Linked DNA regions of Homo sapiens. The main gene of each other region encodes a partner of the protein of the gene in region 3 in a complex. Each region holds a gene or a part of one and is shown on either strand. Other genes may lie near its edges. A codon is read from its position in the direction of its gene.

Evidence for each region.
Region 1: CALR (region 3) and CELF1 share a complex: the UniProt entries of both Homo sapiens proteins name them as parts of the EIF2 complex.
Region 2: the proteins of CALR (region 3) and GABARAP are in contact, whole or in part, in a crystal structure (PDB 3DOW), measured with the Homo sapiens proteins. Residues at the interface, in NP_004334.1 of Homo sapiens: Asp199 (codon at 1,718), Trp200 (codon at 1,715), Asp201 (codon at 1,712), Phe202 (codon at 1,709), Leu203 (codon at 1,706), Pro204 (codon at 1,703), Pro205 (codon at 1,700); in NP_009209.1 of Homo sapiens: Glu17 (codon at 7,285), Ile21 (codon at 7,297), Tyr25 (codon at 7,309), Arg28 (codon at 7,318), Pro30 (codon at 7,324), Val31 (codon at 7,888), Ile32 (codon at 7,891), Lys48 (codon at 7,939), Tyr49 (codon at 7,942), Leu50 (codon at 7,945), Val51 (codon at 7,948), Pro52 (codon at 7,951), Leu55 (codon at 7,960), Phe60 (codon at 8,115), Leu63 (codon at 8,124), Ile64 (codon at 8,127), Arg67 (codon at 8,136), Phe104 (codon at 8,669).

Annotation. Positions count from the first base shown.
Region 1 is NC_000011.10:47,548,454-47,557,590, reverse strand, and holds the start of CELF1 (CUGBP Elav-like family member 1), read left to right. Parts: upstream 1-4,458; 5' UTR 4,459-4,599; intron 4,600-9,137. UniProt on the Homo sapiens protein: RNA-binding protein implicated in the regulation of several post-transcriptional events. Involved in pre-mRNA alternative splicing, mRNA translation and stability.
Region 2 is NC_000017.11:7,239,405-7,249,566, reverse strand, and holds GABARAP (gamma-aminobutyric acid receptor-associated protein), read left to right. Parts: upstream 1-7,117; 5' UTR 7,118-7,236; coding exon 7,237-7,326; intron 7,327-7,887; coding exon 7,888-7,966; intron 7,967-8,106; coding exon 8,107-8,225; intron 8,226-8,647; coding exon 8,648-8,713; 3' UTR 8,714-9,559; downstream 9,560-10,162. Other genes in the region: CTDNEP1 (CTD nuclear envelope phosphatase 1), read left to right, coding at 2,224-2,290, 2,385-2,503, 2,705-2,776, 3,197-3,313, 3,430-3,541, 4,932-5,016, 5,322-5,382; PHF23 (PHD finger protein 23), read left to right, coding at 9,936-9,981. UniProt on the Homo sapiens protein: Ubiquitin-like modifier that plays a role in intracellular transport of GABA(A) receptors and its interaction with the cytoskeleton.
Region 3 is NC_000019.10:12,931,888-12,942,062, reverse strand, and holds the start of CALR (calreticulin precursor), read right to left. Parts: upstream 3,455-10,175; 5' UTR 3,384-3,454; coding exon 3,293-3,383; intron 2,930-3,292; coding exon 2,828-2,929; intron 2,636-2,827; coding exon 2,432-2,635; intron 2,011-2,431; coding exon 1,916-2,010; intron 1,821-1,915; coding exon 1,611-1,820; intron 1,580-1,610; exon of another isoform or gene 1,523-1,579; coding exon 1,409-1,522; intron 1,320-1,408; coding exon 1,176-1,319; intron 1-1,175. Other genes in the region: FARSA (phenylalanine--tRNA ligase alpha subunit), read left to right, coding at 8,367-8,513. UniProt on the Homo sapiens protein: Calcium-binding chaperone that promotes folding, oligomeric assembly and quality control in the endoplasmic reticulum (ER) via the calreticulin/calnexin cycle.

The DNA.
Region 1 (9,137 bases), on a different chromosome or scaffold from region 3:
ATGCCTGTGAAAAGTCACTGCACTCCAGCCTGGGCAACGGAGCGAGACTCCGTCTCAAAAAAAAAAGAAAAATAGGCCGGGCGTGATGGCTCACCCCTGTAATTGAAGCACTTTGGGAGGCCAAGGCGGGTGGATCATGAGGTCAGGAGATCGAGAGTACCCTGGCTAACACGGTGAAACCCGTCTCTACTAAAAATACAAAAAATTAGCCGGATGTGGTGGCATGTGCCTGTAGTCCCAGCTACCCGGGAGGCTGAGGCAGGAGAATCGCTTGAACCCGGGAGGGGGAGGTTGCAGTGAGCTGAGATTGTGCCACTGGACTCCAGCCTGGGCCACAGAGCCAGACTCTGCCTCAAAAAAAAAACAAAACAAAACAAACAAAACCAAGAAAGAAAAGTAAATAGGCCGGGCGTGGTGGCTCCCGGCACTTTGCGAGGCTGAGGCGGGCGGATCACTTGAGGTAAGGAGTTCAAGGCCAACCTGACCAACATGGGGAAACCCCGACTCTACTAAAAATACAAAAATTAGCTGGGCGTGGTGGTGTGCACCTGTAATCCCAGCTACTCAGGAGGCTGAGGCAGCAGAATCGCTTGAATCTGAGAGGCAGACATTGCAGTGAGCCAAGATGGTGCCACTGTACTCCAGCATGGGCAACAGAGCAAGACTCCGTCTCAAAATAAATAATAAATAAATAAATAAATAACCAAATAGAGACAGGGTCTTACTCTGATGCCTAGGCTGGAGTGCAGTGTCGTGATCATAGCTCACTGCAACCTGGAACTCCTGGGCTGAAGGGATCCTCCTACCTCAGCTTCTTAAGTAGTTGGAACTGCAGATGTACATGCCACCATGCCAGGCTAACATTTTTAAATTTTTTATTTATATGGAGATGGTGTCTTGTTATGTTGCCTGGGCTGGTTTTGAATTCCTGGCCTCAAACAGTCCTCCTGCCTTGGCCTCCAGGGTAGCTGGGATTATGGGAGTATGCCATCATGCCTGGCTATCATCATTTCCTCTATATTTATCTATTATTATATGGCTATGAATGAACCATAATTTATCAATCTCATTTTGTATCAAATTTTATGCTGTTTAAACAATGTTATGGTCAGGTGTCATGGCTCGCACCTGTAATCCCAAAACTTCGGAAGGCCGAGTGGGGAGGGTTGCTTGAGCTCAGGAGTTTGAGATCAGCCTGGGCAACATAGTGAGACCCCTGTCTCTACAAAAGAAAAAAAATTAGTTGGACATGGTGGCACACACCTGTGATCTCAGCTACTCACAAGGTTCTGGTGGAAGGATCTCATGAACCCAGGAGTTCAAGGTTGCTGTGAACTATGATAGCACTACTACACTCCAGGCTGGGTGACAGAGCAAGACCCTGTGTCTAGAAAAGTAAAATTAAAAAAATAAAAAATGTTACAATCTCTGCCATTATCCATGAATATTCCCTTAGGATAAATTCCTAGAAAGGTATGTAAAAGTTTAGATTCCTCTAGGCAGATTATCTGAACTTTACTCCCATCACCACTTGGAGAAGGCTATTTCTCTGCACTCTTACTAACACTGGCTTTTTTTTTTTTTTTTTTTTGAGACAGAGTCTTGCTGTGTCGCCCAGGCTGGAGTGCAGTGGTTCGATCTCGACTCACTGCAACCACCGTCTCCCAAGTTCAAGCTATTCTGCCATCTCAGCCTCCCGAGTAGCTGGGATTACAGGCACCCGCCATCATGCCTGGCTAACGTTTGTATTTTTTAGTAGAAACAGGGTTTCACCAGGTTGGTCTTGAACTCCTGACCTCAGGTGATCCATCTGCCTCGGCCTCCCAAAGTGCTAGGATTACAGGCATGAGCTACCGCGCCTGGCCGACATTGGCTATTTTTTAAAAAAAATAAATCTTAATCTATTTGTAAGGCAAAACATGAAACAGGAAGCTTTACATACTCTTAAATCTCACACTAGGCTTTTTTTGTATTTGGACTGTTTAGCATTTTGTCTATGTTGCTGAAACCCTTTGAAGTTACAAGATCTATTTGTGTTCTTCATGTAATTGTTCTTCCCCCCAACCTTGGGCTAACAGTCTGTGGCCTTCCTTGGTAACTAAATGCAAGAGTGATATTAATACCTTACAAGTTCCTCCCTTGCAAATGGGAGCCCTAAGTCAAGGCACAGATAGAATAGGAAAAAGCTTCTGGTTGCTCTTCAAGAAGTTTATCGAGTTAGATACAGTGAAAAGCAATGGAGATATTAGGAGAATAACAAGATGGGCATGGAAGAGTTTCTGTTTGCTCTTCAAGAAATATCTATTGAGTCAGATATTGTGAAAAGCACTGGAGATATAATAAGACGGGCATGGTGCCTTTCCTTATTTAGCTCATGGGCAGGTTCCAAGAAGCTTCTAAAGGCGCAACATTTTGTTTTCCATATCTGGCACCTAGATATACCTATTCAGTAAGTCAACAATATTTATTGAGCATGTACTATGGATTAGGCATTATCAAGGCCCTGAGGATAGAGCAGTGAAATAAAACAGACAAAACCTCTATCCTCATGAAGTTTACCTTTGGTTTACCTTCTGGGCTACTGTCAATAAAACAAGTAAAATATATAAATACAAAATATACTGTGAGGCCGGGTGCAGTGGCTCACGCCTGTAATCCCAGCACTTTGAGAGGCAGAGGCGGGCAGAACACTTGCAGTCAGGAGTTTGAGACCAGCCTGACCAACAGGGGTTGAAACCCCGTCTCCACTAAAAATACAAAAATTAGTCAGGCATCGTGGCACGCGCCTGTAATCCCAGCTACTCGGGAGGCTGAGGCAGGAGAATTGCTTGAACCTGGGAGGTGGAGGTTGCAGTGAGCCGAGATCGCGCCACTGCACTCCAGCCTGGGTGACAAGAGCTAGACTCCGTCTCAAAAAAAAAAAAAAACTGTGTTAGATAATGATAAATGTTTTGGATAAAAATGAAAGTGGGATTGAAAGCATGGGTGTGTGTGTGTGTGCACATGCCATGCATGCAAGCAGTGTAAAATAGAGTGCTTAGGGAAGACTGGACTGAGAAGGTGACACTTAAGTCAAAGTCTGAAGGAGGTGAGGAAGTGAGCCATGTGGATATCCACATGATTCTATGGAGCACAAAAGGAGACAGACTCTCTGCTTGAAACATTTCTACAACCTATAGCAGCAAATATATGGTAATATTTGTGACAACATTCTGTAAGCTATAATGGTCTATAAATATAGGATGTTTTCAGTCAACTACACATAAAACTATTAACAAGAACAAGATCATATATCAGCATTATGAATGTATATAAAACTACCCAGTACAATTAGGGAATATGATCATGTACAATTTAAGGACTATATGGTACCAGAAAAACTCTGGTTAGTTTTTTTCCCCCCCAAAGGCGAAAGAGGAAAACCCTTGAGGCTTCTGCTTGGAAGCCCACTTGTTGTTTGTGGTAAGGTAGGATATAATCAGTATTTGTGGGTATAAAAATTATATTCTCTGGGAAGCCAGATGATGTTAGAGAGAAACCATCCCATGAGTTATTTGCATGTTGATGGGGCCAAAAGCTTCCAGAACAAAGTTTTCTTTCTTAATCTGCATTTAACTGCCTCACAAGGTCTGGAACCTAGGAATAAATGTTGGCTTAAACAACAACAACAACAACAACAAATTGTACTGCTTGCGTTCCATCTAGACCCAGGGATTCCAGAGTAACTCAGGAGGAAGTCTTTAGAGACCTAACCTGAGTTAAGAAAAAAAAATATATATATATATTTTTTTTTCGGTAAAAGCAGGTTATGGCTGGGCAATCGGTCTCTTAATAGAATCTTTGTGAACTTCCTTATGTCGCAGCGATCGTTGCCAGGTTGTGCGTTCACACTGATTATCTTGCTAAAAAGCACTCCCTGCACTTGGAACACACATATTCACATCCCAGCAAAGAAGGAAGGCCTGGATGCTGTTGCTTGTCTGCTGGGGCAAAAAGGGGCGTGCCATGTGCCCAACGCTGGCCAAGCACCAGTCACTCACTCATCCATTTATTCAACAAATATCTTATTATGCTCCTATTCAGTGCCCAGTAGGGGTGCCTCCTTGCCCACCAGGGTCATCTAGAGCTCCTGTGGGTGCGATGGGCGGAGTCGAGAACTTCAGATTCCCAGGCCTGGCTCTTCCCTCCAGTAGGGATCGGAGACAAAGAGATGCGCCCCTGCAGCTCCCTAGGTTGAGGGCTCCGCCCGCGGCCCCAGGGGCTTAGGTGCGGCTGCTCCTCCACTTCCCAGCCCGAGGGGGCGCTGCAGCGCCCGGCGCTCGGCCCGCCCCTACGCCGCGCTCCGCTCGCATCGGCGCTGCGGGCGGCGCCGCGGTGATACGTTCCCCCTCGCCGCGCTCCCCCTCCTCCTCTGCCCTCCCCGCCGGTGGTAGGTGCCGGAAGTGCCGCCATTTTGGGGTGTTCTGCTCTGGCGGCAGCGGCAGCGGCGGCGGGACGCGGAGGCTCCCCCGGGATTCGGCCTCAGCAGCGAGGCGGCGGCGGCGGCTGCGGAGGCGCAGGCAGCAACTGAGGCAGCGGCAGGCTCAGGTGCAGCCGCTGGTGAGTGCTGCGGCCGCAGGATAACGGGCCGCGGGAGGGAGGGAGGGGAAAAAAGGCAAGAGGGAGGCGCCGCGGGGCGGGTCCGGTTAGGGAGGCCGCGGGTCACAGGGCCCTCCGGGCGCGGCCTTTTCTCGTTCCCTGCGTCCTGGGGTAGGGCTGCGATCTCCTCCTGCATGTCGGGGTCCCCGGCTCCCCGGGTCCTGTCGCGTTTGCCCAGCGCGTGCCCCCGCGCCCAGGGAGACCCGCCCTCCTCGTGGCTTTGCTTCCTCTCCCCGCGCCCTTTACCTTCACTCTCTAGGCTCAGAGGCCTCGTGCCCTGCCCAGGGCCAGCTCCGTTTTCCTCGTCTTTCTGGCTGCCGTGCTGGACCCAGGCTACCTGCCCGGGACACCCCATCTCTGCCCCTGTCGTCTCACGTGTTCTTAGTGTCCACTCCTGTGGGTGCCGAAGGGTCCGCGCCCCTAGAAGGCAGCGCTTTTCCCGAGCCTCGAGAGCCCCTCGTTCCTCGCCCCAGATCCGCTACGGCCTTGGCTCGCCCTCCCCCCACATCAGGTGCTCACCCAGTCGTGGCCTAGTAGCTGGGCAGGAATCTCGCACCCGGGAGCGGGAGGAGCACATTAAAGCGCTTTCTTCGCTAGGGACCAGGCTTTGATTTTAAAGCCAGTGGTGTCGTGGTTGTGGTCCTCCGGGTAGGATGTTGTTGTAATTCTTGGAGACCATTACACATGCACCAAGGAGCTTCTCATTGGTTTAGGCTCATACCCATAGTTGAGGGGAATGTGGTAAGATTTTGACTGGAATCTGTTTCCGCAAAATGGAATCTCTTTCTCGCCAGGAGAGAGCTGTAGGTTTATTACCTTCGAGTAAAAAGGCTGTATAACAGTTTTAAAGAGCATGAAATGCTTTATAATGTGTGCAGTGTAAGAGGTTACAAATAATGAATCTTTTACAAGAACTTCATCTTTTTTTTTTTTTTTTTTAAGACGGAGTTTCGCTCTTGTTGCTTAGGCTGGAGTGCAGTGGCGCTATCTCGGCTCACTGCAACCTCCCCAGGTTCAAGCAATTCTCCTGCCTCAGCCTCCCAAGTAGCTGGGATTACAGGCATGTGCCACCAGGCCTGGCTAATTTTCGTATTTTTAGTATAGACGGGGTTTCACCATGTTGATCAGGCTGGATGGTCTCGAACTCCTGACCTCGGGTGATCCACCCGCCTCGACCTCCCAGAGTGCTGGGGATTACAGGCGTGAGCCACCGCCCCCGCCCGGAACTTCACCTTTTAAAGTTCTTTTCACTGTCTTTGATTACCCATGAATTGGGAAGGCTTTAATTGGATGCTTTCCCCTTGCCCACAAGTGTAGCTTCTCTCCAAGCGCTTTGGAAGTTTCAGCCTCTCTATTAATCCTTGGTGAGAATGAAGGCGTCTCAATATAGAATCACCCTTTCTGTTTTAGCATTAAAGAGTCCACTTAGAAAATCATGGAATTACAATAGCATGCACAAACTGTTGCTACAGTGATTTTCTTCTCATGTTAATTTTTATATTCTTCAGGCTTTACTTACCTAGTATGTGGTTTCTGATCATGAGTTAGCCAAGATTGAAGCAGCACTGTTGGTAAAGCAAAGCTGGAGCTTTCAGTTGTTGCTTTAACCAGGAAGGTTATGGTTCCCCTAGTGGTTCTTTCCTCATGACAGTCCACCACCTGTTTCCATTAAGAATGGCCTTTGGCCCAGATCACAGGCCTCAACTTCTATTCAACCATTCATTCTGACCCCTTTAAAGAAAACCCAGGGTTTTCTTTAGAGATTGTGCTATCTAGACTTAAGATCTGGTAGCAAGAGGGGCTGTTAGAGATGGAATATCTTTTCTAGAACCCCTTCACTTTTTGGATGAGGAAACTGAGGGCCCTAGAAATTAAGTGACTTACTTGCCCAAGGTTATGTTTTTTTTTTTTTTAAACAATATCACGAGTAATAATGCAATCTTCCCTTTGAGGTGTAATGAAATGGGAAAGGACCCTGAATTGAAGTTAGAACTAGGCCTGGATTGTAATGCTTGCTCTGTCATTTACTGGTTACACAACCTTGGCAAGTCACTCAACTGTTCTGCTCCTCAGTTTATTCGCACCTGCAAAATGAAAGAAACAGCATCTGTCTCACATGGTATTAGTTCAGCTTCAGTAACATGGTGAAATACCCATGATGTAATAGGCAGACAGTGAAGTTTTTAGCCAAAATGATTTTTTTCTAAAGACTTCCGTGTATTTTTCTTAATACAGAAGTTACAGATTCACTATAAAAAAAAAACAGGTAAGTCAAAAAATGAAGAAACTCACCCATAGTGCCACCACTCAGAGATGATTGTTAAATATTGGGTCTTTATCTTGCCCATCCTTTTCATATGCTATAGAAATGCCTATCTTCCCAAAATAGGCTTATCTTAGTCACAGTTTTGTGATGTGGGTCCGGTCCCCCCCAACCCCGCCATGGAGTCTTGCTCTGTCAACCATACTGGAGTGCTCACTGCACACCCTGTCCCCCGGGCTCAAGCAGTTCTCCTGCCTCAGCCTCCCGAGTAGCTGTGATTACAGGCGCCCACCACTGCGCCCAGAGGGTTTTTGTATTTTTAGTAGAGATGGGGTTTCACCATGTTGGCCAGGCCGATCTAGAACTCCTGACCTCAGGTGATCTGCCCACCTCAGCCTCCCAAAGTACTAGGATTATAGGTGTAAGCCACCGTACCCGGTGTTTTTTTTTGTTTGTTTGTTTTTGTAGAGACAGGGTGTCACTGTTTTGCCCAGGCTGGTTTTGAACTTCGGATTACAGATGTGAGCCACTGAGCCTGGCCTACATTTTAAAATTGTGGTTAAAAACACAAAATTGGCTGGGCGCAGTGGCTCACACCTGTAATCCCAGCACTTTGGGAGGCTGAGGTGGGCGGATCACGAGGTCAGGAGTTCGAGACCAGCCTGGCCAATATGGTCAAACCCCATCTCCACTAAAAATACAGAAATTAACCAGGTGTGGTGGCATGTGCCTGTAGTCCCAGCTACTTGGGAGGCTGAGGCAGGAGAATCCCTTGAGCCCAGGAGGTGGAGGTTGCAGTGAGCTGAGATTGCACCACTGCACTCCAGCCTGGGCAACAAGGCAAGACTCTGTCTCAGAAAAAAAAAAAACAAAAAAAACCCACAACATTTACTAACTTAGCCATTTTTAAGTGTTCTGTGACATTAAGTACATTCGCACTGTTGGAAAACAGATCTGTGAGTTTTTCATCTTGCGTATCTGAAACTCTATGCCTGTTGGACAACAGCTCCCCTTTTCCCCCTCCTACTAGCCCCTGGTAACCACCATTATTTCTGTTTCTACCAATTTGACTACTTTAGATAACATCATGTAAGTGGAATCATACCATGTCTGTTTTTTGTGACAGACTTATTTCACTTAGTGTAATGTCCTCAAGACTCATCCATGTTGTACTGTGTGACCGGATTTATTTCCTTTTTAAGGCTAATACTCCATTGTGTATATATATATATCATATTGTTTATGGACTGCATCCACTAATGGACTTTTGGGTTGCAGCTACCTCTTGGCTATTGTGAATAGTGCTAATGTGACTAGGTGTGCAAATAGGTATTCCAGCCTCTGGAACAATATCAGTTGTTTTGGATATATACCCCAAAGTGGGATTGCTGGATCAAGTGATAATTCTGTTTTTAATTTTTATTATTTTGAAAGAATCTAGGCCACTGGAATAGTGTTTTTTTATTTGTTTGTTTGTTTTTTGAAGAACCCCTATACTTTTTTCTATAGCAGTTGCACCATTTTACAGTCTTGCCAGTAGTACACAAGGGTTCCAGTTTCTCTACATCCTTGACAATACTTTTTATTTTTTCATGGCCATCTTAATGGGTGTGAGATACCTCACTGTGGTAGTTTTGATTTGTATTTCTCTGCTGACTAGTGATGTTGAGCATCTTTTCATATGCTTGTTGGCCATTTATATATTATCTTTGGAGAAATGTCTGTTCAAGGCCATTTCCCAGTTTTTAATCAAGTTTTTTGATTTTGTATTGTTGAATTATAGAAGTTCTTTATATTTTCTGGATTTTTTTTTTTTTTTTTTTTGAGATGGAGTCTTGCTCTGTTGCCCAGGCTGGAGTGCAGTGGTGTGATCTCTGCTCACTGCAACTTCCGCCCACTGGGTTCAAGCCATTCTCCTGCCTTGGCCTCCTGAGTAGCTGGGACTACAGTCATGCGCTACCACGCCCGGCTAATTTTTGTATTTTTAGTAGAGAGGGAGTTTCACCATGTTGGCCAGGCTGGTCTCGAACTCCCAACCTCAGGTGATCCGCCCGCCTCGACCTCCCAAAGTACTGGGATTACAGATGTGAGCCACCGCACCCAGCCTCTATTTTCTGGATATTAACCCCTTATTAGATAGATGATTTGCAGATATTTTCTCCCATTCTGTAATTTGTCTTTCACTTTGTCGATTGTATGCTTTGATACACAAAATATTTCATGTTCGATATAGTCC
Region 2 (10,162 bases), on a different chromosome or scaffold from region 3:
GGGCATACGGAGTGGTGCTTCAGCTCATCCACAGGTTACTTCCAAAATTGCTCTCCTTTGGGCAGCACTGACCCCATAGCCTTTTGTCCTCCCTTCCCTTCCAATCTGGTTTCTTTCCCCACCCCGCTTCTGGCAGATGCTTGGAGCATTCCCTACATGCCCAGCATATGCAACCCGAGATAGCAAGGCTGGACACTGGAGCTCTTTCGGACCTCATCATGGCCCAGGGAGAAAAGAAGGGCAGATCTTGATTAGGGGGAGAGAGCCCTGTGGGTTTAGAAGGGAGAACCTGGTTCTGGTGTGGCTTGGGGCCTAGGTATGCACTGAAGAGGGTTTGTACCTTTGAAGAAAAGTGTGGAAGAGGGAATTGCCAGGCTTTGTATGGGGAGATGTGCGTATTAGGAAATAGCCCCTAGAGAATGCTTGGAGAAGCAGAGCTGGATGAGGTGGTGACGTCCTTGTCCCTTATTCACCTCTCACTTAACGGCCCTGACTTCACTCTGGCCTCCTCCAGACCCTGCCAGTCAGCCTGGCAGGGGCTTTCCAGTGTTCTTTGCCTCACCCTGGGTACCAGGATAAGGAGACTGTTCAGAGGGCTGAGGTTCTCTGAACTTGTGACTTGGCTAGAAGGGACAGAAGTGGACAGGTGGCTGGTTAAAATAGGCCTGGTGGCTTCTAGCCAGAGGAACTTAGCTGACCTGACAACCTCTGGATTCCCTCATTCTATATTCCCATTAAGGACCCAGGGATCTCCTCCCGACTCCTACTCCATGTGCACTAGGGAATCTGAGGCACTTAGTTCCCAATGATGGTAGTTGCTACAAATAATTCTTGGGGTGAAGGTTGCGTTGTGGGGGTCGTTTCTTTGTTCAGTGTAGCAGGATAATATCACAGTTAAGAGGGCAGCTTCGGCCGGGGGTGGTGGCTCTTGCCTGTAATCCCAGCACTTTGGGAAGCTGAGGCAGGTGGATCATGAGGTCAGGAGCTCAAGACCAGCCTGGCCAATATGGTGAAACCCCGTCTCTACTAAAAATACAAAAATTAGCTGGGCGTGGTTCGCGCGCCTATAGTCCCAGCTGCTTAGGAGGCTGAGGCAGGAGAATTGCTTGAACCTGGGAGGTGGAGGTTGCAGTGAGCTGAGATCGCGCCACTGCACTCCAGCCTGGGCAATGGAGTGAGACTCCCTTCTCAAAAAAAAAAAAAAGAAAAAAAAAGAGGGCACGTTCTTGGGTTGAACTGCATTGGTACAATCCTGGCTCTATCACTTCATTGATTCTACTTTTTTTTTTTTTTTTTTTTTTTTTTTTGCGACGGAGTCTTGCTCTGTCACCAGGCTGGAGTACAGTGGTGCGATCTCGGCTCACTGCAACCTCTGCCTCCTGGGTTCAAGCCACTCTGCTGCCTCAGCCTCCCGAGTAGCTGGGGCTATGGGCACGCACCACCACGCCCAGCTAATTTTTATATTTTTAGTAGAGACGGGGTTTCACCATGTTGGCCAGGATGGTCTCCGTCTCTTGACCTTGTGATCCGCCTGCCTTGGCCTCCCAAAGTGCTGGGATTACAGGCATGAGCCACTGCGCCTGGCTGATTCTACTAATATCAACTGACCACTTTTGCTACTGTGTTCTAGGCACTGGGAATACAGCCATGATCTAGACAAAATCATATTCTCATGGAGTTTTCATTTTAATTAGGGAGAGAAACAACTTAAGATAATTCCTAGCTGTGTGGCCTCAGTTTCTTTAACCTTAAAACAGGTATAACAGTAATATTATGGTTGTTTTGAGGATTAAATGAAAAAGGCCAGCGTAGTGGCTCATTCCTGTAATCCCAGCACTTTGGGAGGCAAAGGCAGGAGGATCACAAGGTCAGGAGTTTGAGACCAGCCAGGCCAATATAGTTAAACCCCGCCTCTACTAGAAATACAAAAATGAGCCGAGCGTGGTGGTGCACGCCTGTAGTCCCAGCTATTAGGGAGGCTGAGGCAGGAGAATTGCTTGAACCTGGGAGGCGGAGGTTGCAGTGAGCCGAGATCATGCCGCTGCACTCCAGCCTGGGCAACAGAGCGAGACTCCATCTCAAAAAAAAAAAAAAAAGAAGAAGAAATAAGCCTAAATTACATACATAGTACCTGTGGTAAATGTTCATTATGTGCTCCCTGTTACTGTTACTGGGGAAGGCTTCCTTATCAAGGGTTTCAATCCTCTTTTGTGCTATTTGTAGGTAATTCAGTACCAAACTGTTCGATATGATATCCTCCCCTTATCTCCTGTGTCCCGGAATCGGCTAGGTAAGTATGTGGTGGGAAGCCTCCTTTAGGGTGAAGTAGGGGCTAGCTCTGGGTCAGAGGTCGGTCAATATTATTCCTCCCCACTCTGGTTCAGCCCAGGTGAAGAGGAAGATCCTGGTGCTGGATCTGGATGAGACACTTATTCACTCCCACCATGATGGGGTCCTGAGGCCCACAGTCCGGCCTGGTACGCCTCCTGACTTCATCCTCAAGGTGTGTGGTGGTGGGGAGTGATGAAATGGTTCCATCTGTTCCTCTGCCCAAACCTGGACTCCCTTTCCCAGTCCCAGAGCATCTGTCTCCATCCGCTGGCACCAGTGTCAGCCTGGAGGAGGGAAGCAGATGGGTGGGGCGTTTTCTAGGCCTGGGTTGTGGTGGTCATGACATCCCCCAGCCCATCTTGTTCCTCTGTAGGTGGTAATAGACAAACATCCTGTCCGGTTTTTTGTACATAAGAGGCCCCATGTGGATTTCTTCCTGGAAGTGGTGAGTTTTGGAGAGCTAAAGGGAGCTCTGTAATGAAGGAATGGTTTTAGGGCTCTGGGAATTGGGAGGATTTGGAGGAAGGGGTGAGGAGAAACGGGTTAGAGCAGTTTTCTAGAGGGGAGGCTGTGTAATGGTAGGGGAGTGGCTTTCAGTACTTGGGGTTCATTTGTTGTGCTGATGTAATTCTTTTCCGCTGGCATCTTTCTCTTTTGTTCTTGCATTTCTGAATCATAAGAGTGTAGGATGCCTAACACTGAGTTTGGAGGTTTGGGCTGGGGGTTCAGAATTTCGTGTCCTCAGAGACATTTGATGTTGATGGAAGGCCTGAAGGACTATGCCATTGCCTTTCTGAAAGATAACTGTATGTCTAAAGGAATCATCACCTTGTATGGCATCGCCCTCTCCCCCAATCTATTTCAGGTGAGCCAGTGGTACGAGCTGGTGGTGTTTACAGCAAGCATGGAGATCTATGGCTCTGCTGTGGCAGATAAACTGGACAATAGCAGAAGCATTCTTAAGAGGAGATATTACAGACAGGTAAGCTAGAATCCCAGTCTAAGAGTGTGGCTTGGGAGGGAGGCCACCAGGGAGGGATCTGGGTTTGAGGAGAGTATCCTGGAGAGAGGCCTGCTACATGATCCCCTGCCTTCCAGCACTGCACTTTGGAGTTGGGCAGCTACATCAAGGACCTCTCTGTGGTCCACAGTGACCTCTCCAGCATTGTGATCCTGGATAACTCCCCAGGGGCTTACAGGAGCCATCCAGGTACGGGGGAAGGTGGTGAGTCTGGCAGGACCAGAACATGGTTCTGAGAAGGTATTTTTGCAGGAGACCTGGGCTTTGGTCCTTGAGAGCTGGGATTCCCTAGATTATCCCTAGTTTGCTGTAAGTCGAAATGCAAGTTATTTTTGTGTTTCAAATGAGATACCATATATGTCCATTTCATAAGTCGGATTTCTTATATCATTTTTTTCATTTTTAAAATTTATTTTTGGCTGGGCACGGTGGATTATGCTTGTAATCCCAGCACTTTGGGAGGCCGAGGCAGGCGGATCACGAGGTCAGAAGTTCGAGACCAGCCTAACAAACATGGTGAAACCCCATCTCTACTAAAAATAGAAAAAACTAGCCAGGCGTGGTGGCGCACGCCTGTAATCCCAGCAACTCGGGAGGCTGAGGCAGGAGAATCGCTTGAACCCGGGAGGCGGAGGTTGCAGTGAGCCGAGATTGCACCATTGCACTCCAGCCTGGGTGACAGAGCGAGACGCCGTCTCAAAAAAAATAAATAATAAATAAATAAAAATAAAATTTATTTTTATTTATTTTTTGAGATAGGGTCTCACTCTGTTCCCAGGCTGGAGTGCAGTGTCATGATCATAGCTCACTGCAGCCTCGATCTCCCAGGCTCAAGTGATCCTTCTGCCTCAGCCTCTCAGTAGTTGGGACTACAGGCGTGCACCACCATGCCCAGCTAATTTTTTTATTTTTTATTTTTTTTTGAGACAGAGTCTCGCACTGTCACCCAGGCTGGAATGCAGTGGCGTGATCTCGGCTTACTGCAACCTCCGACTTCCAGGTTCAAGCAATTCTCCTGCCTCAGCCTCCCAAGTAGCTGGGATCACAGGCACCTGCCACCACGCGCAGCTAATTTTTTGTATTTTTAGTAGCGACGGAGTTTCACCACGTTGGCCAGGCTGGTCTTGAATTCCTGACCTCGTGATTCGTCCGCTTTGGCCTCCCAAAGTGCTGGGATTACAGGCGTAAGCCACTGCCCTTGGCCAATTTTTTGATTTTTAGTAGAGAAGGGATCTCATTATGTTGCCCAGGCTGGACTCAAACTCCTGAGCTCAAGTGATCCTCCCACCTCGGCCTCTCAAAGTGTTGGGATAACAGGTGTGAGCCACTGCGCCTGGCCAAGTGTGTTTCAAGTGAGGCACAATGGCAGTAAGCTTGACTAGAAGCATCAATAGGTATGAGATCTGGTGATTAAAACTTAGTTTCGGAGCATAAACCAGGAAAGTTTTACTTAGGTTGTTGACTTCCGGTAGTGGGAGGCATATATTTTTAACAATAATTCCTCCTTCCCTCCAAGAAGAGAAAAACACCGTCTCTCTTGAATTCTGTTTCTTCTCATCTGCATTTTCACCCACCCTAGACAATGCCATCCCCATCAAATCCTGGTTCAGTGACCCCAGCGACACAGCCCTTCTCAACCTGCTCCCAATGCTGGATGCCCTCAGGTAAGGGAAGTGGGCTCTGGACACTTGGATATCTCAAGAAAGGAGGAGGTGGGGGATCCTCAGAGGGAATAAAAAAGGTTTGTCCTGTTTTAACTCTGTTCCCTTAAGAATTTAACATTTGGACCCAGGTCGTCTTACTTCAAAGCTCATCACTTTAGCTAGTAGGCTGTGGGCAAATTGAACCTATCTAATCATGAATATGGTGATAATTTAGGTCCCACATCTCCAGTGATGCTGCCTTACAAGAGTGTTGTGAGGGTATGAACTATAAGGTACTCTACCAATGCAAGTTATTGTCACCCCAGGTTCACCGCTGATGTTCGTTCCGTGCTGAGCCGAAACCTTCACCAACATCGGCTCTGGTGACAGCTGCTCCCCCTCCACCTGAGTTGGGGTGGGGGGGAAAGGGAGGGCGAGCCCTTGGGATGCCGTCTGATGCCCTGTCCAATGTGAGGACTGCCTGGGCAGGGTCTGCCCCTCCCACCCCTCTCTGCCCTGGGAGCCCTACACTCCACTTGGAGTCTGGATGGACACATGGGCCAGGGGCTCTGAAGCAGCCTCACTCTTAACTTCGTGTTCACACTCCATGGAAACCCCAGACTGGGACACAGGCGGAAGCCTAGGAGAGCCGAATCAGTGTTTGTGAAGAGGCAGGACTGGCCAGAGTGACAGACATACGGTGATCCAGGAGGCTCAAAGAGAAGCCAAGTCAGCTTTGTTGTGATTTGATTTTTTTTAAAAAACTCTTGTACAAAACTGATCTAATTCTTCACTCCTGCTCCAAGGGCTGGGCTGTGGGTGGGATACTGGGATTTTGGGCCACTGGATTTTCCCTAAATTTGTCCCCCCTTTACTCTCCCTCTATTTTTCTCTCCTTAGACTCCCTCAGACCTGTAACCAGCTTTGTGTCTTTTTTCCTTTTCTCTCTTTTAAACCATGCATTATAACTTTGAAACCAAAGCGGCCTTAGGTCCTTCTCTGGGGTTTTGGGAAGTGAAGAGAGGGGACTTTGTTCACATGCACCCTGTCCCACAGGCAGAGGGGGAAGAGACTGCTGTTGGACTCAAGGGGCAGGGGGAAAGGTGGCGTTGAGTATAGGGATAGAATAATGCGGACACCAGATGCCTGGGATACAATAATGCTGACACCAGATGCTTTGGCGGGAAGGGCCGAGTGACAGGATGGGCGCGCTGGTGGGGAGTGGAAGGACACCTTCGGAGAAGCAGGCTATGGAAGCACGAAAGGAGAAACCGGCTATGGAAGCACGAAAGGAGAAACCTGGACGGCCAAAGGGCGTAGAGCTGGAGAAACCGGGCTTCGTCCGGGGCACTGACGTGGACAGGTTAAGCGGGCGCTGCCCCCAGGTGGCTGGCGCCCCGACCTCCGCTGTCCGGGAAGGCGTCGGTCCCCCTCCCAGCTGTCGCCCAGCCGGCCCCGCCTCCCCGGCGCCCTCCCAAGCCGGCCCTACTTCGCGCACCCGCCACGTGACGCTCCGCCCTCTTTGAGATCACATGATTTAACTCAAGTCCCGCAGTGTTCCTCCGCGCTGGCGTAGTCCCTACCTTTCCAACCTCCTCTCCAGTCCCTATTGGTCTACTCATTTTGGCACTTAAGCGTTCTGTAGATCTCTCCAAACATCTGTTTTCTTTTTGACTTCTTATTTCTGGAGATCATCTCCGCCACTTGGGTACTACTTTGTTTTGGTGTCAACGGCCGCCTTCAGCGTAGCAACACGGTTCGTGAATAGCTAACCTTGTAATTGTCCCTGCTGTTCCTCTACGTTGTTAACGAAAGGAACTTGGAGAACCAAGTCTCGTATGATGATTACCATCTTTTACTCCTCTTCAGCCCCAGCTTCCTTGAGGGGACGGTTGGGGAATAGGTTTAGAGTAATTTTCGATGAGCAAAAGCCAACCGTCTTTGCTACGTCGCCTGCGTAGCCCACAAATTGATTCCAAAGCGATTACGCTAATGGCGTGAGGGGGCCGGTCAGTTGGTGGTGCTACGCTAGCAGCGTTAGCGCCGCTGAGGTAGTGGCGTATCTTAGCGGGGGGGGCAGTCCCCGATAGTCGGGGGCGGGGTTGGTGAATAGGGAAGTGGCGCAAATTCGTGGATCGCTCCGCTGAATCCGCCCGCGCGTCGCCGCCGTCGTCGCCGCCCCCCGTCCCGGCCCCCCTGGGTTCCCTCAGCCCAGCCCTGTCCAGCCCGGTTCCCGGGAGGATGAAGTTCGTGTACAAAGAAGAGCATCCGTTCGAGAAGCGCCGCTCTGAGGGCGAGAAGATCCGAAAGAAATACCCGGACCGGGTGCCGGTGAGGACAGTAGCCAGGGCCGAGGGCGCGGGACGCTTACGCTGACGCCACAGCCTGGCCTTGGATCGGGACAGGCAGCGCAGGGATCAGGCTGCTGGCTGTGGTGGGGTTGGCAGCGAGCCTGAAACTGCTGTCCTTGGGACCCAGGATGAAAGGAGTGGGGTAGTGGTGGATGTGGGGTTGAGAGGGATGTGGACAGGAGAGAGAAACCTTAGCATTTGAGGCCTTAGAGAGTTTGACAGCCTGAGCTTCAAATGGTCATCCCCCCAGCTAGCTAAGGTTGCGAGATTGAATCACTAGTCGACCCAAACAAGTCACCTCCGTCTGATTAAGATAGTTGTTTATGGTGACGCCCTATTGGGGGATGGATCCTGGATATTTAAATGAGCTCCAGTCAGTGAGGTCAGGATCTCTGGGACTCAGTGCTGCACCGCGTGTACAAAGACAAAGAGATGAATCTGGGGTAGATTTAGGTGCTAGGAATATTGTTTCTTGAGTTCTTGACAGGTGCAGCTTCGGGGCTGCATTCCTTCTGTCTCCTAATTTTCATCTCTTTATCAGGTGATAGTAGAAAAGGCTCCCAAAGCTCGGATAGGAGACCTGGACAAAAAGAAATACCTGGTGCCTTCTGATCTCACAGGTGGGAACCTGATCCAAGACTCAGGCTTGCTTCCTGTGGGTGGGAGTGCAGTCTCTGCGGGAGGAGGCTCCACCTAGCAGCTGTTCTTTTGAGGGCATTTTTGACCTCTGTGACTTTCTTGCATCTTGTATCTTTTGCAGTTGGTCAGTTCTACTTCTTGATCCGGAAGCGAATTCATCTCCGAGCTGAGGATGCCTTGTTTTTCTTTGTCAACAATGTCATTCCACCCACCAGTGCCACAATGGGTCAGCTGTACCAGGTATGGTGACTGGGAAGTGGTGGAGGCTTTGGAGAGGAATCTTGGAAGAGCGTGAGGGGAAGAAAGTGTTGTTACATCAGTAGTTTTGGACTAGCTTCCTGGCTTGCCTTAAAGTTTCATAATAGCCGTGGGTTGGGGGTTTGGACAGAACAGTAGGAGTAGAGAGAAGGAAAGAGAACAGTGAGCTAGAGAAACTATCTGTTCGGGACTCTTCCCAGTCCCCCTCCCCATTCCAAAGCAGCAGAAAACAGTTTGAGGCCTTTTTGCCCAGGACTGCAGAGATTATACTGCTCGTGTGGTAGGCCTTGGAGTCAGTGAAGGAGTCAGGCAATGGTTTGTGGTTCTAGAAGAACGTGTCTGGGTCGTGGTTGGTTTAAGTTACTGGAGCCCAGTTGCTGAACAGTTTTCTGCTTTCATCCCAGGAACACCATGAAGAAGACTTCTTTCTCTACATTGCCTACAGTGACGAAAGTGTCTACGGTCTGTGAAGCTGCTGCCCCTGAGCTGGAGGGGGGTCTCATTCTACAAAGAGAGAGGTGGCCCCCCTTTCTTGACCTCCTCCTCCTTCAAGCTCAAACACCACCTCCCTTATTCAGGACCGGCACTTCTTAATGTTTGTGGCTTTCTCTCCAGCCTCTCTTAGGAGGGGTAATGGTGGAGTTGGCATCTTGTAACTCTCCTTTCTCCTTTCTTCCCCTTTCTCTGCCCGCCTTTCCCATCCTGCTGTAGACTTCTTGATTGTCAGTCTGTGTCACATCCAGTGATTGTTTTGGTTTCTGTTCCCTTTCTGACTGCCCAAGGGGCTCAGAACCCCAGCAATCCCTTCCTTTCACTACCTTCTTTTTTGGGGGTAGTTGGAAGGGACTGAAATTGTGGGGGGAAGGTAGGAGGCACATCAATAAAGAGGAAACCACCAAGCTGAACTGAATTTTGCCTTGTGTTGCTCCCCTCGTCCCGCTGATTTTAAGTCTTTCCAAGGTGTCAGTGGGTTTCAGTGGTGGGGAAAGAAGAGTACTGGGTACAAGCTGGAGGGATAGAAGTATATTTTGGTTTATTCTGTTCATGTTGGGCTTTTCCCTGTCTGCAAAAAGAGGGTGCTTTTGTTGTGATGGAATGGAATACTGAGGATTATTTCTTGAAACTTTAGTTTTATAACACGCATGTGAAACTAAATGTTAAAAATGCTCATGTAAAAAAAAATTTTTTTTTACTGTGGGTTCCTGTGGAGAAAGTTCCGAAGTACCTGCTTTAGGTGAACATCCACATTTGCTAGAACATTCTAACTAAGATATTTTCATGTGTGCAAGCTAGTAAAACGGCTGTTCTCAGTTGCATGTCACTTGGCTAGACTTTTGCCGGTGTGTGGGATCCGGCAGAGTGGAATCAGGGAGGGAGAAGACTGGGAGCGGGAGCCATTATCGCCAGGAATACTTCAACTCCCAGCAATCATTTCTCCGGCAGGCCGGAAGTGGGGCGGTCCTCCTGGGGAGAAAGAAGCTGCAGAACGAGGCAGTATGGTGGCCGAGAGTTCTAATCCCTTCTTCCTCTTCTTTCTTGGTCCCGCCCAGCCTACATCTCCCAGGGGCCTGCGCGCGCACTTCCGCTCTCCCCTCCGGCTCCTGGTCTCCCCGCCGCTCCCCGGGGGAGGGGAGCGGCTTGGTGCGCCTGCGCCAGCCTGTGGCTTTCTGGGAATCAAAGTTCCGGAGGTTCATGCGGTCCCTTTTCCGCTGTTCCCGGACGGACTACAAAACCCTTGGTGCACTGCGCCTCGGCGCCGGCGGGGGGAGGAGGGAGAGAAGAGGAGGGAGGGAGGAGAGAGGAGGTGGAGGAGGAGGAGGAGGGAGCAGGCGGCCGGCGGCGCGGGGGGAGGGGGCCCGGTCCGGGAGTGCGGGAGGCAGTGGTAGAGGGAGGTGGCGGCAGCGGCTAGCGGACTCGAG
Region 3 (10,175 bases):
TTGAGAGGGTCTCACTCTGTCACCGAGGCTGGAGTGCAGTGACATAATCATGGCTCACTGCAGCCTCGATGCCCCAGGCTCAAGTGATCATCCTTCTTCCTTGGTAGTTGGGACTACAGGTATGCATGACATCTCGCCAATTTTTAAAGTTTTTGTAGAGGCTAGGCATGGTGGCTAACCCTTGTAATCCCAGCACTTTGGGAGGCCGAGGCGGGCAGATGACCTGAGGCCAGGAGTTCGAGACCAACCTGGGCAACATGAAGCCCTGTCTCTACAAAAAGGCTGGGTGAGGTGGCTCACGCCTGTAATCCCAGCACTTTGGGAGGCCAAGGTGGGTGGTTCATGAGGTCAGGAGATGGAGACCATCCTGGCTAACACGGTGAAACCATGTCTGTACTAAAAAAAAAAATACAAAAAAATTAGCCAGGCATGGTGGGGGGTGCCTGTAGTCCCAGTTACTCGGGACCCTGAGGCAGAAGAATGGAGTGAACCTGGGGGGTCGTGCGGAGCTTGCAGTGAGCAGAGATCACACCACTGCACTCCAGCCTGGGCGACAGAGCAAGGCACGGTCTCAAAAAAAAAAAAAAAAAAAAAAATTAGCCTGGCATCCATAGTAGCACATGCCTGTAATCCCAGCTACTCCGGAGGCTGAGGCAGGAGAATCGCTTGAAACCAGGAGACGGAGGGCGCAGTGAGCTGAGATCGTGCCATTGCACTCCAGCCTCAGCAACAAGAGTGAAACTCTGTCTCAAAAAAAAAAATTTTTTTTGTAGAGATAGGGTCTCCTCGCTGTGTTGCCAAGCTAGGTTGAGTTGTGTAACTCCTGGCCTCAAGCAATCCTCTGTCTCAGCCTCCCAAAGTACCGTGATTGTAAGGGTGAGCCACTGTGCCCAGCCCCAGCTAACTAACTGGGTTACCTGACCACCTTCTAGGTCTTTGGGGGTAAAGAAGTTGATTTGCATAAAAGTACTTGGGGAAGTACTTGGTGCACAGCAAGTATAACCTTAAAGGGGTTGCTGTGAGGACTTCACAGGGACAGACCAGGAAGTACTGTTTACAAGAAGTACCATTTTTGAGTCAGACTCACCTGGGGTGCCTACCCTGTCCCTTTCCTCTTGGGTGATCTTATGCACTTGAGGTACCCCAGGGATCCTCCTTTTTCCTCCAAGTCTCACCTGCCAGAGGTCCAGGCCCAGCACGCCAAAGTTATCATAGGCATAGATACTGGGATCGGGAGAATACTCGGGGTTGTCAATTTCTGGGTGGATCCAAGTGCCCTTGTAATCTGGGTTGTCGATCTGCCGGGGCTTCCACTCACCCTGCAGAAGGGAGAAGGAAACCGAAGGGTGAGTAAGGTTGGTGCACTCCCCACTGTGAGCCCCAGCCCTGCTCAGAGCCCCAAACTCACCTTGTACTCAGGGTTCTGAATCACTGGGGGTTCCCACTCTCCGTCCATCTCTTCATCCCAGTCCTCGGGCTTCTTAGCATCAGGGTCAGGGATATGCTCGGGCTTGTCCCAGTCCTGGGGGGTAGATGAAGAGATCAGAGTTGGCCCAGATGTCTTCCACACCCTCCAATGTGGAGAGCAGAGCCCCTGCCCAAACACCAACCTCAGGCTTGGAGTCTGTGGGATCATCGATCTTGGCCCGCTCATCCCAGTCTTCCGGTTTTGAAGCATCAGGATCCTTTATCTTCTTGGGTGGCAGGAAGTCCCAATCGTCTTCCAAGGAGCCGGACTCCACCTGGCTGTTGTCAATCTTCACCTCATAGGTGTTGTCTGGCCGCACAATCAGTGTGTACAGGTGTGTAAACTCATCATCCTGAAGAAGGAAGAAGGTGAGCGGGGGCCACCCCCCAATGAGGCTGACCTCTGAATCTCCCCATGACAGCCATTTGCCACCACCCCCAGGCACACCTTGCAACGGATGTCCTTGTTGATCAGCACGTTCTTGCCCTTGTAGTTGAAGATGACATGAACCTTCTTGGTGCCAGGGCCACAGATGTCGGGACCTAGGTGTGAAGCAGATCCAGTTAAGAGTCAGAGACTACCCATCATCTCGAGGCTCTCACCCCTCTTTATAAAAGGAAGACCTGGTTCTTCAACTCGGGTCTGTCAAGGCTGAGAAGAGAAACTCAGACCCTGATTCTGTCCTGAATGGGCTGTGGGTGGAGCCTTAAGTTTAAAGGAGAAAAAAAAAAAATCAGTGCTCTAGAACTCAAAATCCTCATTAGTAAGATTGGGAAATAACTATATACAAACACGCAAATTAAATTAACAGCCTAGATCTGCGATCATAATGCAATAAATTGTTGCTGGGACTTATTCTTTTAGCTCCCCTTCCAAAAAAAATCATTATTAAGAAAGTCAATGGGGTCTGGGTCTCCCTCTAACTAATGGGACAGAGATCAGCACCAGGAAGCAGGCCCTCACCAAACATGATGTTGTATTCTGAGTCTCCGTGCATGTCTGTCTGGTCCAAACTATTAGGAAACAGCTTCACATAGCCGCCCCCACAGTCGATGTTCTGCTCATGTTTCACCGTGAACTGCACCACCAGCGTCTGGCCTTTGTTGCTGAAAGGCTCGAAACTGGCCGACAGAGCATAAAAGCGTGCATCCTGGCTTGTCTGCAAACCTGAGACGGGACGGTAGTGAGGTCACCGTTGGGCCTTGACTCGCGAGGACCCTCGACTTAGAGAATAGAGAAGACTCCCCCACTTCCTCCACCTGTCCTCCTCCAAGGGGACTGTCCCGGCTGTGTGTGTACAGACAAGGACTTCTGCCAGGAAGTCCTCCCGGATCTGAGCACCCACTCCTAGGCTCTTACCTTTATCTTTCTCCTCGTCACCGTAGAACTTGCCGGAACTGAGAACGAATTTGCCAAAATCTGACTTGTGTTTGGATTCGATCCAGCGGGAAGTCCACCCGTCTAAGTGGGGGATTAGAGGGGTAGGTCAGAGCGGCTGTGCTAATCCCCCCCCACACCAAACATCTGCCGAGAGCCACAAGCTGCTGGGGACAGGAAAGGAGATCCCCGACACTCCCCATTCCAACCTCTAGTTTGACACGTCGGGTGCCTTCAGAGATCCTCGGGCTAACCCTAACTCCCGCCGCGGGAGGCCGCTACGCCCTCCGCGCTCCCCAGGGACGCAGAAGAGAAATCGCCCGCGGCTCTAGTCCCGGGAGGCCACCGTGTTGGACCTCTAAACGGTAATTACGGGCGACAACGCAGATCCAGGATCGGGGGCCGGCCGCGTCGTCGGGGCGGCCTCGAGGCGGGACCAGGCGTTACCTCCGTCCAGAAACTGCTCCTTGAAGTAGACGGCAGGCTCGGCGACGGCCAGGCCGAGGAGGCCGAGCAGCAGCGGCACGGATAGCAGCATGGCGGGCCGAGGGGGCGGCAACGCGCGGGCCCTTTAAAACGACCCTCCGGCAGCGGCTCTGCAGTACGGACGGACGCCGCCGCCCGCCTTGCACTTTTATACCCACCCGCCTCTCAAACCAACCTGACCCAGCCCTTGGGCCCGCCCCTGCCACTTTGTCATTGGTCTATGCCCATGGCCGTCTTTTTCCATTGGACCTTCGTCGGTTCACTATGTTAGGCTGCGCCTCGGAACGCTGGGTTCCCAGATGGCCGATTTCTATTGGCCTCACCACCGACCAATGATGGTCGACCACGCGTGGGGGGGACGCCCACTGGTGGGGTGGGGGCCGCGAGCACCTCAGGCCAGGTCATGTGACCAGACCTGAACCCAACCCCGCCCTCGTCCGCGCGCGTCGTTGCCCATCTGGGCGTTTAAAGAAACCGCGGGAGCGCAGCTGTCTCCACGCGGGACCGGGACCCTGCCCTCAGCTTCTCTCCCTCCCATTCCCTCTAGGTGGAGGGGCTGGGCAAGGCTTTCTTAGCCAGCTCTTATCTTGCATTTGAGAACCAGCACCCCACTGCTGCTCCCCCACCCCTGCCTGGGATGGGAGAGAGCTCACGGATTGGGGCCCTTGGGGCTTCGCTGCACCCCGGTGCTACAGTCACGCGGGCCGGTGGGAAGAATGCCAGCCCTCTCCTCCTTCTGCCCCTAGAGCCCTGGCAGCCTATCGGACTGCTGCTGTGTGACCGGGGCAAGTCACTTAAGCTCTCTGAAGTGACAGACGTTCCTGAGCAGACAGAGGGGGCGACCCTGGCCAGATGCTACCCAGCAGAAATGCTTTTAACGTTTTTAAAGCTGTCCTGGGACAAGAGGGGAGGAAGGCTTAACGATGTGACTGTGACTTCTGGAGTGGGGATAGGGTTATTACCCAGATTGCAGCCGCCCCTTTACCCTCCTCTCAACCGGTAAATGAAGGGGGTCGCTGTCTGTGGTCTCCCACAAACGGCCTGGCTTTTGCAATTAAACGGCTATAGGCAGGCGAGAGGGCAGGGGGTTCCGTTTGGGGAGGGAAAAAAGACACAGATGGTAGGGACGATAAGATGCTAGGGAGATGGGCAGGACCCACCCCCCGACCCCAGTCTAGAGTCTTCTTCAGAAGCCAGAGGCACGTGACTGGCACCAGTACCCTGCCCCCACGCTGTAGAAAGGAGGAAGGAGAGCTGGGGGTTTTCCAAACTCTGGGCAAATAAGCCCTGGACCTGGGAGCGCGGGAGTGGACTATGGAAGGAGGGAATGAGGGGGATCCAGGAAAGAGGGTGGGGAGGGGGTGCTTCCTGGCTAATGGTTGTGACTCAGAAAAGAGAGGAAGGAAAAAATGAAAAGGAAAATAAAGTGGAGTGGGGGGAATGACTTGGCAAGGGTCTCTGGTTAAAAAAAAAAAAAAGAAATGGTGGCCGGGCGCAGTGGCTCACGCCTGTAAACCCAGCACTTGGGGAGGCCGAGGCGGGCAGATCATTTTAGGTCAGTTCGAGACCAGCCTGGCCAACAAGGTGAAAACCCATCTCCACTAAAAATAAAAATAAATAAATAAATAAAAATTAGCCAGGCGTGGTGGCGGGTGCCTCTAATCCCAGTACTCGGGAGGCTGAGGTGGGAGAATCGCTTGAACCTGGGAGCCAGAGATTGCAGTGAGCCAAGATCACGCCACTCCACTCCAGCCCACCAGCCCAGGTGACAGAGCAAGACTCCATCTCGAAAAAAAGACGGGGGAGAATGAACTGGGAAGTTGGGGTTCTACCACTTCCTCTAGGTAGTATTCAGTATTGCCTAGTCTGGTCCCCCCCATGAGGATCCCGGGGACCATCCCAGGCCTCTTGCTGACCCTTCCTCCTGTTCCTGTGTCAGGCACCTGTGGGCTTGGCGCTTCCTACTTGAGGTTAGACACTGCCTGTTTTGTTCACTTCGCATCCTCCAGTGTCACCTGCAGCACCTGGCACAGAACAGGCTTAAAAAGTACTTGCTGCATGATAGAAGAGAGGAAGGAAGGACTCTTGTGGAAATTAACTAAAAACACACGGGGCACAGTGGCTCACGCCTGTAATCCCAACACTTTGGCAGGCCAAGATGGGAGGAATGCTTAAGGCCAGGAGTTCAAGACCAGCCTGGGCAACATAGCAGGAGGCCATTTTTACAAAAACATTTTTTTTAATTGCCAGGCGTGGTGGCGCCTGCCTGTGTTCCCAGCTACTCAGAAGGCTGAGGCAGGAGGATCACTTGAGACCAGGAGGTTGACGCTGCCGTGAGCTGTGTTGTTGCCACTGCACACTCTAGCCTGGGTTACAGAGCAAGACCCTGTCTCAAAAATAAATAAAAATAAGCCGGACATGGTAGTTCACACTTATAATCCTAGCACCTTGGGAACCTGAGGCAGGCAGATTGTTTGAGCCCGGCAGTTCAAAACCAGCCTGGGCAACATGGTGGAACCTCATTCTTACAAAATATATATATGTACACATATGTAATATATTATATATGACATATAATGCATAAATATATGAATAGTATGTATATTATATATAGCATATAATATATAATATACATAACACAAATTAGCCTGGCCTGCTGGTACACACCTGTAGTCCCAACTACTCGGGAGGCTGAGGTGAGAGGATTGCTTGAGCCCAGGAGGTGGAGGCTGCAGTCAGCCAAGATCATGCCACTGCACTCCAGCCTGGGCAATAGAGTGAGACCCACTCCCTAAATAAATAAATAAATAATCAACATAAAATGGGAGGAGAGAAGGGACTTTGAGAAATGTATCCTTAATACAGAACCTCATATAGGGTCAGGATTTGGGGATATGAGTAATCCCATTTTACAGACTCAAATAATAATTGTGATGTAAAAGGAATAAATGTGTTCTGCTTATAAGAGTGTTCGAACATGGGCCACACTCAATTTAGTAAGCAGTGTGAATATGTGTGGGCATTTAATTCTCACAGTAACCTGGGCTCCAATCACCTCCATGTGAGCAAGAAACTGAGGCACAGAAAGACTACACCTTCTGGTTGAATGACATAAATAACAGATCTAGGATTCTTTTTTTTTTTTTTTTTTTTTTTTGAGACAGAGCCTTGCTCTGTCACCGAGGCTGGAGTGCAGTGGTGCGATCTCTGCTCACTGCAAGCTCCACCTACCAGGCTCAAGTGATTCTCCTGCCTCAGCTTCCCGTGTAGCTGGGATTACAGGCACCCCCACTGCACCCAGCTAATTTTTGTGTTTTTAGAGGAGATGGGGTTTCGCCATCTTGGCCAAGCTGGTCTTGAACTCCTGACCTCAGGTGATTCACCCGCCTCAGCCTCCCAAAGTGCTGGGATTACTGAGCCTGGCCAGCAGATCTAGGATTCTAATCTACCTGTGCTGACGTAAGTCACCACTGCCCACATGTGATTACTGACCATTTGAAATGTGGTTGGTCCGAACTGAGATGTGTTGTAAGTGTAAAATACGCATCAGATTTTGAAGATTTAGTATGAAAAAAAGTGCAATTTTTTTTTTTTTGAGACGGAGTTTCGCCTTGTCACCCAGGCTGGAGTGCAATGACACGATCTCGGCTCACCACAACCTCTGCCTCCCAGGTTCAAGCGACTCTCCTGCCTCAGCCTCCCAAGTAGCTGAGATTACAGGCATGCGCCACCACGCCCTGCTAATTTTGTATTTTTAGTAGAGACGGGGTTTCTCCATGTTGGTCAGGCTGGTCTCAAACTCCCGACCTCAGGTGATCCACCCGCCTCGGCCTCCCAAAGTGCTGGGATTACAGAGGTGAGCCACTGTGCCCGGCCGAGTGCAAAATATTTTATTAGTCATCTTTTTTTTTGTAAGAGTCAGGGTCTGGCTGGCTGGGCGAGGTGGGTCATGCCTCTAATGCCAGCATTTTGGGAGACCGATGCAGGAGGATAACCTGAGCCTAGGAGTTTGAGACCAGCCTGGGCAACATGGCCAAAACCCATACTTAAAAAAAAAAAAAAAGCTGGGTGTGGTGGCGCGCACCTGCAGTTCCAGCTACTCAGGAGCCTAAGGTTGGAGGATCCTTAGAGCCTGGGAAGTCAAGGCTGCAGTAAGCCATAATTGCACCACTGCACTCCAGCATGGGTGACAGAGCAAGACCCTGTCTCAAAAAAGAAAGATGTTTTGCACTGTGTTTCTATAGGACAGTGCTAATCTAGGCCATGCAGTATTTGCACTGACGTTACTCTCAGCGCACAGGGGTGGGAGGATCTGGAAGGTTTATAATTTATGACTTCATTTCCACCAACTCTCTGTAGAACCTTGGGCAAGTCATACCACCCTCTGAGCCTCAGTTTTCTCACATGTGTAATGCGGTTATATCAGTATCTACATCATAAAGTTTTGGGGATAAATGAAATACTACACGTGAAGTACTCAGTTCTGGGCTAAGTACTACCACATACGAGGTAGTCCACACAGGTTAGGTGCCACCTTGACTTACTAGGTGAATTCCTTTTCCCTCTATAAAAAGGGACGGTACCTACCCAGCCTTCCTTTGAAATTTTAAAAGTAGCTGACATCGCCAAAATGACCATCTCTGGAGCCCACCACCCACCGCCTCTCCTAGGGCAAGAGAGAATACCAGAAGGGCAGAGGGTTCTGTAACCCAGAGACGGGGAAGTCCAAGGTCACACAGCCCGCTCGAAGTGAGGCTAGATAAAACTCAAAACAGGGCGGTGCTTCTGACCTTGAGATAATCAATTTTACCCCTCTGGTCAACCAGACGCCATTGATGGAGCCAGGGTGGAGGTGGGAACTGAGTCCCATGCACCTTTTGCGGCTCCGTCGCCACACTCAAGATGACGACACATTGAGCCCTGTTCTACAGTTAGACACATTCAAGATGGCGGTACACACTCCGGTTCCGGTTCCGGTGGCTCAGCTCCCCCCGCCCACCCGGGCCCGGACACGCTGAGCACACTGGAAGGAGTCATGGCGGATGGTCAGGTGGCGGAACTGCTGCTCCGGCGGCTGGAGGCGTCTGATGGCGGCCTGGACAGCGCCGAGTTGGCGGCTGAGCTGGGCATGGAGCACCAGGCGGTGGTGGGCGCCGTGAAGAGCCTTCAGGCGCTGGGCGAGGTGAGCCGGGCCCGTGATGCCGGACCGCCTTGCCCTTGCACCTACAGTCCCCTTGCCACGGGCGCTCTACGTCCAAGCCAAATTCCCTCAGGCCTAGTTTGGGGTAGCTGTATATGTGTCCACTCCGGGATGTGCGGGCGGGAAGTGGGACGAGTGAGGGCCCAGACGCACGGATGTTCCTCATGCAATAAACGTTTATTGAGGCACGGTCAGCGTGGGTAGAGGGTACGATGATGGACGAGGAAGTCGCGGTTGCTGCCCTCACGCAGGTTGCGACGTAATAGGAAGGTGCTTCAAGAACCAGAGTGATGGGGGAAAACAGGGGACCCAGCTGTGACAGCTGACCCAGCCTTGGGGGTCAGGGAGAGCGGCCTGGTGCAGGTGACGGCTGAGTCTGTTCTCTGTTGAGGAAAGTGATAGCACTTTAGAGATCAGTGGCCGGGATCTTGGGGGATGGCAGGCGGCAAGGGAGACCAGCATAGCTGTAATTGCAAAGCCTCTTAGGTCTTTACCTCATGAGGGAACTGGGAAGCGATAGCAGGAGCTAGAGCCGGTCAGATGAGTGTGCTATCCACATCACCTTTGGGAAGAATTGGCATGGACAGGACTGGAGGTGAAGGGATGAAAGAAGAAGCTGGCACTTCCCCAAGCTGGAGGGCATGATGTCTGGCTATGGGAAGGAAGCTTGGGGGAGGTGGGGAAGGCGTGGGATTCAGGACAAGGCAGGGGGCGCACAGATGAAGTCCAGCCTTCTGACTTGGGCAAGTGGACAGTGACAGAGTCACAGGCGTAGGATGCTGAGGGGCCCGTGGGCCACCCAGAAGGCTAGATCCATGGGGCCAGGATCTGGGCTGTTTATCCGTAGAGCTCATGTTCTGTGCCCCACTTTGGTCTCAGCTTGTTTGTCCAATCCATTCCATAATCCTGGCTGATGGCCATGTTATTCCCATTTTGCAGATGTGACAACTGATGGTCAGTAACATAATCAGTGTGAATAGAAGAGGCCGATGAGCCCAGATTTGAAATTAGGCACTCAGGCTGCAGAGCCCATAGTCCTCAATGCAGAGGAGAGATGGCAGCTGTGTTGTGTGGGGTGACAGTGCCTTGACCAATATGATCTGACATTTGTATACGTCACAGAGGGTTAAATAATATAAGGAGGTGAGGTTCAATCTAATGACAGTAATAGCCATAAAAATAATTATAGTAATTAGAATTTATGCCGGGTGCAGTGGTCACACCTGTAATCCCAGCACTTTGGGAGACCAAGGCGGGTGGATCACGAGGTCAGGAGTTCAAGACCAGCCTGGCCAAGATGATGAAACCCTGTCTCTACTAAAAATACAAAAAAAAATTAGCCAGGCGTGTTGGTGGGCACCCGTAATCCCAGCTACTTGGGAGGCTGAGGCAGAGAATTGTTTGAATCGGGAGGTGGAGGTTGCAGTGAGCCGAGATCGCACTCCAGCCTGGGCGACAGAGCGAGACTCCGTCTCAAAAAAAAAAAAAAAAAAAATTTATGCAGTGTTTGTCACGTGGTAGGCACTATATATTCTTTCTGAGTATTAATTTAGCTACTCCTTAAAATCATCTGAGGTAGAACCCATCACACCTTTCTCTTATGGATGAGAAGAGTCACTGAGAGGTTAAGCAACTTTCCTGAGG